Linked DNA regions of Homo sapiens: region 2 is linked to region 1. Evidence: fine-mapped QTL for protein levels in blood plasma. A gene starts in region 1. The other region holds a variant in brackets. All regions are shown on one strand. Distances are between the middles of the regions. Region 1 holds the start of EPHX2 (epoxide hydrolase 2). Region 2 overlaps EPHX2 (epoxide hydrolase 2).

What was found. PIP is the posterior inclusion probability: the model's chance that the variant is causal. The UK Biobank Pharma Proteomics Project read protein levels with antibody pairs (Olink). The fine-mapping took linkage between variants from a reference panel, not from the people measured, so its PIPs are less certain.
Region 2: its variant is fine-mapped to the plasma level of the EPHX2 protein (UK Biobank, PIP above 0.99). The variant lies in the coding sequence of EPHX2. If it changes the protein, the assay may bind it differently, which can mimic a change of level.

The regions. Positions count from the first base shown.
Region 1 is chr8:27,488,125-27,493,500 of GRCh38, forward strand. EPHX2 (epoxide hydrolase 2) reads left to right here and starts at 3,019. Exons shown (of 19, transcript NM_001979.6): 1 at 3,019-3,185. The coding sequence starts at 3,085. RefSeq lists a cis regulatory region at 762-1,076 and a silencer at 2,823-3,102.
Region 2 is chr8:27,534,621-27,539,996 of GRCh38, forward strand. It overlaps EPHX2 (epoxide hydrolase 2), which reads left to right. Exons shown (of 19, transcript NM_001979.6): 13 at 2,164-2,235; 14 at 4,039-4,072. Among named protein-coding and RNA genes, the nearest start is that of EPHX2, 46 kb to the left of the region's middle. The variant A/AGTC (reference allele first, on the strand shown) is at 2,197.

The sequences.
Region 1 (5,376 bases):
AGTCCTCCCTCCCAACCCCTAGTGGTTAAACAGATTTTATAAAATAGGGTTTGACAATCAAGGACTAGCAGGAAGTTGCAGAAGGCACAGGAATGGCAGAAAACCCAAAATAAACCTTAATGAGGTCAGTGTACATTCATTATGAATTTAGTGATTGAAATCAGGTGTAATTTATAAATTTTCACTACTACATTAGCCATCTTTTATGATTCATGCTATCACCTAAAACATATTTCATAAATATTAAAATTAGAAGACATAGGGGTTAGGATTTACATTTCAAAAAGCCACCCAGTTCCCATAGCCCTGCTGGGTAAGCCCTTATCTCTCTGTACCTTAGTAGCAGAAAACACAGGAGAAGCACGACCATGAAAAAGGGCAAAGTGCAGTGAAATGCAATTGAGACCTTTAATCTTTGCCTAAGCAATTCAGCCAGAAAGCTCTGTAACTCACAAGGCATTATAAAAATATTCCACACCAGAGCTATTTACAAGTTAACTGCTCCTGAATAAATAAAAGTCCATGTGATAGCTTCATGGCTTTCTCTTAACCAAAGAGGAAAGTAAAACTCATATTTCTATGTTTTTAAATTTTTCTTCTCAAAAGGGGGCTTTATGAAATCTAGTTCTGTAGGTATGTCGTTCCTCTACACTTTACTGCTTGTATAAATATACTTACGTATTCATAAGCAATACTGTGCTAGATGCAGAATTCAGATGCAGGCAACAGAAATCACTGTAGTTATTTTAAATAGAAACAGAAGAAAGGGATTTAAGATGAGAGACTGCAAGCCTACACAATCTTTGAACGGAATGGAGGAGTGAGCTCCAGACTGAGCCTTTAGGAAGGACTCCCAGAAAACACCACCATAGAACTAGAAGCTGCTATCTCTGCCTCAATCAGCAGGCCACCGCTAGAAACACGAACATATGGTTTGGCTGGGAGCCAAGGATCTGGAAGCAACTCCGTGGTCTCGGGACTGAGCCACTGAGTCAATGGGGATGCCAGTTTGTAAGATAGGGAACACACTAGGAGGAACAGGCGTGGGAAGTAGAAATGCAGAGAGAGTTCTGTTTTAGCCATGATAAATTTGAGATGCCTGTTAGACACTCAAGAGAAGATGTTCAGTAAGAAGTTGGATATTGACGTTGAGTAAGATGTTGAGTAAGAAGTTGGCAAGTCTGGAGCCCAAAGGAAACTCTAAGTTGGAGATTTAATTTCTTTCTTTTTTTTTTTTGGAGGTAGAGTCTTGCTGTGTCACCCAGGCTGGATGGAGTGCAGTGGCACAATCATGGCTCACTGCAGCCTCCACTTCCTGGGCTAAAGTGATCGTCCCACCTCAGCCTCCTGAATAGCAGAGACTACTGGCATGCACCACCATGCCTAGCTAATATTTTATTTTTATTTTTTATAGAGAGAATGTCTTGCTTTGTTGCCCAGGCTTGTCTCAAACTCCTGGCCTCAAGCAATTCTCCCACCTCAGCCCCAAAGTGCTGGGATTACAGGTGTGTGCCACCATGCCCAATCTGGAGATTTAACAGGTTTCATACTATATAGGTCAGGCTGCAATTTTCTTTCTATTTTTTAAAATTCAATTATACCTTTGAGATCAACTAACTTCATGAGAAACTAGCTTGCTGTACTCCCTTCTCTGCCTATCTTTCAGTCTTCAAATCCAGAGTAATCCAGTTTCTACCATAAAGGGCCCACAAAAAGTGTTCTGAAACATCCGGTGTCATCCAAGTCCAAAATTGGACAGCTTTTTTTTCAGTTCTTCCTGTAACATTTGGCAGTGTTGGCCACTCTCTGCTTCTTTGGCAAGAATCTCAGAAAACACTAATAACTGCTCCAGGCAGGAGCCTGGAAGAGGTTACCAAGCTAGAGAAGGAAGCAACAGCATAGCTTGCTAAGGGCAAACAGCCCAGAGGAAACCCACGGCTCTGGTCAATCCTGTTGTTGATTGCTAGATCCAGAGACTGTTGTAGACCTCCCAGTTACAGTGAGGTATCTGACAACCCCTCACAAGGTTCTTGAAGCTCCGTGGTGGAGGGTATCTTGGATAAATCCACAGAGACACATTCAAGAGTAAATTCTCCACTGTTGGAGACCTCACTCACTCTGTTTGGTCTCCACCAAAGACACGGTTTTTAATTCATGGAGCTGCACTACAACAGCTCAAGAACTCCCAGCCAAAGTTTTAGTTTTTCTAGGAACATAAACGAGCCAATAGTGTGGAAATCGGTGATTAAAAACAAACCTCGCACATTTTAAGACAGAATTATTACAAGTAGCATGTACAAAAGGAAAATAATAGCCTACATTTAGTTCTTCTAAGCTTCATTCCACAAGAGATTGAAATCGAAGTATTCTGGGCTGGCACACGATAGCTGGAACATCATATTTTATTCTAGAAACACATTTGCCTTGGCAAAGAAGAGCGTGCCTAGAGGAGTGGTCAGGATAGTGAGGGATCTGTGATCCTTCGTTCTGAATCTAGAAAAGTCACTGGATATGCCCCTCCCCCGCCCCCCAACACGGTCTTATGTTCTGAATGTAGAAGTCACTGGATGTGCTGACACACACACACACACACACACACACACACACACACACACACACACACACACACAGAGTCTGTGGCCTCTTTCCCAGGCATTCCAAGTCCAGCAAGTTCGCAGGGAGCTGTCAGTCCGTCCAGGAAGGCCCGGGCCTGGGTTTGCCTCTTCAAGCAGCTACTGCAGGGGCGTGGGGAGGGGGCATAAGAGACTTTGGACTTTCCTTTGAGACAGTAGAAAGCGTTACATCCAGAGGCGAGATTCTAGCCTGGGGTCCCCGCCTTCCCGGCCTCCTCTTCCTCTCCCTCTGACTCCCTTTCCTGTGCCCCTCCCCCTGCCTCTTTCCCGGCCAGAGTCCAGCCTTAACCCGGGCAGAGGGCGGAGTCCCGTTAAGGGGGTGTGGGGAGGAGGCGGGGCCAGGGCAGGGGCGGGGCAGAGCCGGGCCAAGCTGGGCGGGTCATGCGCCCTGGCCTTCGCGCATCTCCCAGGTTAGCTGCGTGTCCGGGTGCTAGGCTGCAGACCCGCCGCCATGACGCTGCGCGCGGCCGTCTTCGACCTTGACGGGGTGCTGGCGCTGCCAGCGGTGTTCGGCGTCCTCGGCCGCACGGAGGAGGCCCTGGCGCTGCCCAGGTAAGGGGGCCCAGCGCCGCCGCCGCAGTGGGTCGGGGCCTCAGGAGGCAGACCGCGCTGGGCTTGCAGCCCAGCTTTCAGATTGCTCCTGTGCCGGAGCCCTGCGAATCATGCGAATCATGAAACTGAAGACCTGGCCCTGAAGTCCCAGTGCATATGAGGAGATCCGTTGTCTTTCTAAATGTTCATAATTAAACGTTGCCAAGGTCTCCAAAATTGCTTTCTGTGAACTTTTCCAAAAGGGAGAGGAGTTACTCATGGAGCTTTGTGCTTCTGCTGCCTCCTGTCTAATGGGGTGGCGCTTAAAGATGCGAGCCGAGATTCAGGAGAGAAGAAAGTTCTCTCCCCAGGTGTGGGTTGCATGCTTACTTGTGTAATAGCAAACTGCAGCAACCGCCCAAAGCCACATCACTGGGAAATGGTAGATGGGGTGTGCAGAGTGAGAGCTCAGGGACTTGGGAAAACACCTGTTCTACTACATGAAAAAACCACCCCACCAGAATCTGAAGCTATTTATACAATATGGTTTCAGCTATGGAAAAAAGGTACATGCAGAAAAGTGCCTGAAAGAAATAGGCCAAAGTACATCAAATGAGATTAGGAATAATGTAATGATTTTCTTTCTCTCTCTCTTTTTTTTGTGTTTTTTTTTTTTGTAGTTTCCAACTTCTAAATTTATAAACAATGTATTATTCCCACATTCAGAAAGGAGAGAAGTATACTTATTTATAAAGTGAAAAAGAAGGCCAGGCATGGAAGCCATTGTTCATATCCTCCTTTTACATATGAGGAAACTGAGGCACAGAAAGAAACCAGCTGTCCAAATCACATAGCTGTTAAAGAGCAGAGCCAGAAATCCAACCCCAGTAGTCCATGTCCGGAGCCTTTGCTTTTAATATAGTAAGGAAGATGAGATGGCAAGTAGCTTGAGGGAAAGGCATGTAATCTCTGTGCTTTGGGAAGCTAAGGTGGGAGGATCACTTGAGGCTGAGAGTTCAAGACCAGCCTGGGTGAAAGAGCAAGACCCTGTCTCTCCAAAAATAAAAATAAAATTAGCTAGACATTAGTGCATGCATGTAGCCCCAGCTACTTGGGAGGCTAAGGCAGAAGGATTGCCTGAGCCCAGGAGTTGGAGGCTATAGTTGTGTCCAGAGTTGGTTCCTGTCGGTGGGTTCGTGGTCTTGCTGACTTCAAGAATGGAGCTGTGGACCTTCGCAGTGAGTGTTACACTCGTAAAGATGGCGCAGACCCAAAGAGTGAGTGATAGCAAGGTTTATCGTGAACAGCGAAAGCACAAAGCTTCCACAGCATGGAAGGGGACCCCAGCAGGTTGCCGCTACTGGCTGGGGTGGCCAGCTTTTATTCCCTTATTGTCCTCTCCCATGTTCCATTTCTGTCCTATCAGAGTGCCCTTTTTTCAATCCTCCCCGTGATTGGCTACTTTTAGAATGCTGCTGATTGTGCGTTTTACAGAGCGCTGATTGGTGCATTTTACAATTCTCTTGTAAGACAGGAAAGTTCCCCAAGTCCCCACTCGACCTAGGAAGTCCAGCTGGCCTCACCTCTCAATCCTCCCTCATAACAGGACACCCCACCTGCTACTGGGAACTGGGTGATGACCACTCTAGCTACTTCCTGCTGGATAGGGGCAAAGAAGGGGCCCTGCCGTTGTAGTGTCCTCCAGAGGGGAACTCTCTAGGCCAGTCAAAGGGCCAGTGGGTCAGTCTAGCAGTCCTCGGTAGAAGTTGTGAGTTAAGCTCATTTGGGGTTCCATTTGTAAGACCATCTGTAGCTTGATGGCCTTGATCCTGGAGGAAACAAATTTGAGGAGGAGGTTAAAAATACAGGGACTGAAGGTGAGTAATAGCAAGATGGCTGTCACGGGACCTAGAAAGGGGAGAAGCCAAGTCACCCAACTCCAGAGGTTGGTATAAGAATTTGAAAGGTGTTGTCTGGTTTCAGAAGCCTTTTCCTGTAAATGCCAGGCAGCATCCTGTACTATCCCTGACTGGTTAGTTTAAAAACAACACTCCTCCCCTAAGAAGGTGCAAAGTCCTCCTTTCTCAGCAGTGAGGAGGTCTAGACCTTAGCGGTTTTGGAGAGTCACTGTTGCCAAATAGTCTATTTGGGATTGTAGAGTAAGGATAGATTTATTTATTGCAAACTGTCTGAGAAATCCTTTGAGAGTGTA
Region 2 (5,376 bases), 46 kb after region 1:
GCAACAGAGCAAGACTCCATCTAAAAAAAATAAAAATAAAAAAAGTAACCTCTCAACGTGTGCAAGCACTGAGGACTGCAGGTCGCTGGAACGAAAGCTTTGTGGATGTGGCTTTAGGATCTTCCTGTCCTCTGACTCTATCTCAAAGGCAGCCACAGATGCTGCTGAGAACAGGATGAGTCCCCACCACTAAGGGGATCCCAGGAGAGCACATTCAAGGCTCTGCAGGATCCAAGAAAAGCAGAGTTACCCCTTGGTGGTGGGAAAGATGGAACCTCATGGAGAAGGCAGTGTTTGGGTCCGGTGTTGAAGGCCAAACTAATAGAAGTCCATGCTCTTGGTGAAGGTCACAATGTGTTAAACCAGGGAGGCCAGCGAGTAGGAGGCCCGCTCAGAAAACACATGCAGAACAGTTCAGCTGATGTTTGGGTGCGTGCAGGTGGGTGGTTAGAGGGAAGGAGAGGAGAGTCAGTTGGCATTGCCACACTTAACTCAATTCCCTCTGGTAGCACTAGTCCCTCAGCAGCAGCTGTGTTACAGAAATATTTTATTTTATTTTATTTTATTTATTTTGAGACAGAGTTTCGCTCTTTTTGCCCAGGCTGGAGTGCAATTGTGAGATCTTGGCTTACTGTGACCTCTGCCTCCCGGGTCCAAGTGATTCTCCTGCCTCAGCCTCTGAGTAGCTGGGATTATAGGCATGCACCACCATGCCCGGCTAATTTTGTATTTTTGGTAGAGACGGGGTTTTACCATATTGGCCAGGCCGGTCTCAAACTCCTGACCTCAGGTGATCTGCCTGCCTCGGCCTCCCAAAGCTCTGGGATTACAGCGTGAACCACTGCACCCGGCCAAGATTTTTATTATTTCTGAGTGGTTGCCCCTAGTGGATCTCTGCCTCCAGGACAGCTGTTTTCTCCTAAACTACGTCTGGAACAGCTTTCGGGTCCACCATCTTTCAACTTCTGGAAACGACAGCTTGAATTAAAATTGTCCTCTTATGCTCCAAAAAGCCATGAACCAGGCTACCCCCACTAGGAGAGTAGGATCCATGGATGGATCTCTTGTCACCTTCCAGCCATTCCCCTGTTCTTGGTGTCTGCTTTGCTGAAGTGCTCCTGGAGAGGGTTGGGGTAGGAAGGAGAGGGGAAGCAGGAGAGGAAGACTCCACACCCTGAGCCTCCAGTAGGAATCTCCTCCCCAGCCCTCAGCACATGACATTCAGTGACCTGGACACTTCACTTTAGTCCTCATCCAAGCCCCTCCCCCATCCTTTGGTCCACCAGGAAGGTTCTGGAGCCTATTTTGTACATTGGCATCTCTTGGTCCAGTTTGCCAGAGAAGGAGCTCAGTGTCTGTGGAGCTGATGAAGCAAGTTCAGGTCAGAGAATTCCCACCATACACAAGCCAGAGACCTGGGAACAGCCAGAGAACTGTGTGTCGACTGGGTAATTAAATGCCATACTGCTCCCAAGAACTGGAAGGACCTGGTCATTTGTCACCAGGAAGGCTATGTGTCCCAGCTCTTTAACAGTGGAAACCTTGCTGCCCTGTCTGTGGAATACAATCTATTGGCAATCTAATGGTCTGTAACAATTAAGACCCAAGTCAAAGGAGTTGATTTTGAAGTTTCTACAGCAAAAAAAAAATTGTTTAAGTTTCTTTGTAAAGATGGGGTCTCGCTAGGTTGCCCAGGCTGCTCTTAAACTCCTGGCCTCAATATAGCGAAATTTAGATGCCTGGATGGAAGAGCATTTGGTATATAGTTTTTGGCTTTTCTGCTTGGTTTCTCAGAATCCTTGGAGCCCCTCTCTTCTTACCACCAGTCAGCCTCCAACCCATTCCTCTACCAGCCCCCTCCCAAGTCCTTTCAAGAGATTATTATAAGTAGTACCTTCTCATTATAGGAATATTGAAAAACACAAAGAAAGTGGCATCTATAAACCTGCCTCCCGTGGGGAACTACAGTTAGCATCTTGTATTTTATGCTAACCTTTTTAAAAGACATGTTTTATGATGAAAATTCAAATGGATGCTATTCTGATGAAACTTGGGCTGGATGGGGCACAGGTAGGGTGCTTGTTGCTTTCAGTCAGATGAAGGAGGGGTACAGTTTCCACGATTTCTAGGGGGTCCTTCATTTTGCTTTCTTGATTGTTTTAGGGAGTGGCTGAGGCTGAACTGGAACAGAACCTG[A/AGTC]GTCGGACTTTCAAAAGCCTCTTCAGAGCAAGCGATGAGGTGAGGGGTGGGGATGGGTGCAGAAGAACAGGAGGGGGCAGTTGTGAAGGAAGTAGGGTACCTAGTGTGTGGCAGGGACCAGGAGTAGCAATCTGGCCTCCTTTTCTTTCATTTCTATAGTCAGGGTAATTGAGGTCCTCACTCTACTGGGAAAATTTACATCCTCGTTGACACACAAGGTCAGAGAATGATTATAATAATGATGGCTTGGAAATTATGCTATTACCATTACCATTTTAACATGCATAATTGGCTTACCCAAGTACAAAATTAATTGATGTCCCCAACCCTCTTCTTGAAGCAGAGGAGTTTAGAAACCTTTAACTCTGTAAGCTGCACCCTCCTGTCTTAGGTGTTAGGAGTCATCATCACTATTGTTGTTTTATATACAGTCAGTGCCTGCTCAAACTGTCCCATATTTTCTACTTTCTTTACTGATCACTTCTTGCATCTCACTCATTTGCATTGAGTTCAGTTTCTTTCTTCCTGAAACATCCCCTTTAGTAGTTCTCTCAATAAGAGTCTGTTGGTGGTAAATTCACATTTTGGTGCCTGAAGACATCTTAATTTTAATCTTGAAGAATCATTTATCTGAGTATAGAATTTTAGGTTATTTTCTTTTAGAAACTTCTGTCATTGCTTGTGAGTCAGCCTCGGGTCTAACCTCCTATACATTAATTGTCTTAGCCAATTAATTGTCCTGGACACTGCAGTGTCTGATCTGCAGTTTAACCTGTCTTTGAAGTTTTAATTTCAATAAATAGTTTTTTTTAATTTGTGAAAGTTTTATTTGGTTCTTTTTCAAATCATTCTGATCTCTTTTGATAGAGTCTTGTTGTATTCTTATTTTTCAGTTCCTTTTATGTTTTCAATTATTTTAAGTATATTCATTTCTAATTCTCTCTTGTTTCTCTCTCTCCCTCTCGCAAACTCTGTTATTGGATGTTTTTGGGGAGTCGTATTTACTGTTTGCTACATTTTTTGCCTCTTGCTGTGGGGCCTTTTTGTGTGAGTGTGGGTTTTGTAATTTTGGTTTATAAGCTCATCTTCAGCAGTACTTAATCTGTACCCATCTGCTTCAATTGGGCTTGAGGAAATGACCCCTTGAGTGGTTAAGGATTTCTTCTGCCAGGCATCCTGGTGGCATTACCAACCCAGGCTCACTTTGTTGTTATTGTTGTTGTTGTTCTTGTTTACTTCACACCTTGAGAGTTTCCAGATCATGCAGAGAATGCAAACTCAAATCCAAGCACTTGGGAAGGCAGGCCTAGAGCTATGAATTCCCAAGGGGGTGTCTTTTGGTTTCCTCTTAGTACCAAGCTGAAACAGACAAACTCCTTTAACATCTTTATCATCATGAGGGGATTTTTTTTCTAATCAATTTTTTCACTGAGGGTATAGCATGTCAGAGACCCCAGATTTACTGGATTTACCATGGAGGAGCATGGAATATCACATCTTCAACTTCTCATCATAGGCCAAGGTCTCTTTTCTTGTTCCCATTGGCTGATAAACCTAGGTCTTCATATTACCAAGGTCTGCAAGGGCCCTGGGGCAGTCTCAGCCCAGAGCTTTGGTCGTGAGCCCGCTCTTTACTTGACTTCTGTGAGGGGGTCCCTGGCTCTCTTGGGAGTTCCACATGTTTGTTACAGTCTGCGTGGTACTCAGAGGTCATTTGTCATAACAGGGTTTTCAGATGAGCATATTTCCTTTGTCATTTGTCGTAACAGGGTTTTCAGATGAGCATATTTCCTTTGTATCACCCATGACATCATTTGTAACTCTTTTCTTTTCTTCCTTCAGAGTGTTTTATCCATGCATAAAGTCTGTGAAGCGGGTAAGAGACATGCTTGGGAGAGCCATATCTGGAACCAGCTGAATGTTAAAGGGATGTTTCTGTCTCTGACTGCTATGGGCAGAAGCCCTGAGCTCTCCAGCTCTGAACTTTAAGTTGCCCAACCAGGGTCCCCTCGGCATGCATAGGGCTGACTCTAACCCCAGGCCTGAGCACACAGCCTGGAGTTCCTACCCTCTAGGGAGCTGTGGCTTCAAGATCTTAAGCAGTAAGAGCTTGGAGGAGTCTTAGAGCTTGTCCAGGGCAAAATCCACCCTCTACTGATAAGGACCCCAGGATTGAGAGCTTACCTCTATGGGGGTCACCTCGTGTATGCAGGTGGAGTGGAGTGGGGCCCCTGCCCAGGTCTCCTCCATTGCAGTCCACTGGCCCCTCTCCATCCAGGCGCCATGTTTCCAATTCCCCCACCTGGAGCTCATCCTTGTCTCCCTCCTGGGTTGGGTATGAGTGAAGGGTCAGAGTTGAGATTTGATTTGAGCTCATCCCCATGGCCCCTAGATCCAGCACTCTTCCCACAAGACCTTATTTTTGCTGCAGCACTGTGGCCTTGACAGCATTCACTTGTATTTTTATGAATAATGATGACCACTGTCACTTGTTTGGGCACGTGCTGACCATCTGTATAAAACTCTGGACTAACCCCCTTTAGATAAAATATTTGTGATCCTCGAAGCATTCTGAAAAATGCTACTATTTTTAATTTCCAAAGAGGAAAACAGGTCTCAGAGGGTTAAGTAACTTGTCCGAAGTGGCTGAGCTGGGGTTAAACTCCTCTGACCCTGCAGGCCATGCTCTTGTCACTGCTCAAAGAACATCTTCCTTCCCTCCCCCACACCCACATTCCCTTATTCCTTCACACCGTCTGTCACTCATTCATTCACCCATTCATTCATTCCTCAAATGCTGTGAGCACAGGCTGGGTATGAAGCTGGGGCTGCATGCTCAGCTACCCAGACACACGAAGCAGGGTGGCCACCCTCAGTGAGCCCACAGTCTCACGGGAGGCAGAGCAGCTGGGATGCTCGCAGAGGGGCCCTGAGGTACAGTGAGTCTGGAGCACCCGCCTGGTGGGGAGGCTCAGGGTGGCTTCATCACAGGGTGACATCCTCATCACATACCCCTTTGATGTGTCTCACAAAAGCCTGGAATGACCAGTTCCTGTGCCTCCGGGTCTTCGTGAATCTGAAAATGCCGACGGGCCCTGTTCAGGCACCAGCATTGAGGCTGTGCCCTGTGAAATTGCAGTGGTCCCTGGGCTGCCAGGGGTCATCACAGGCCATCCTCTG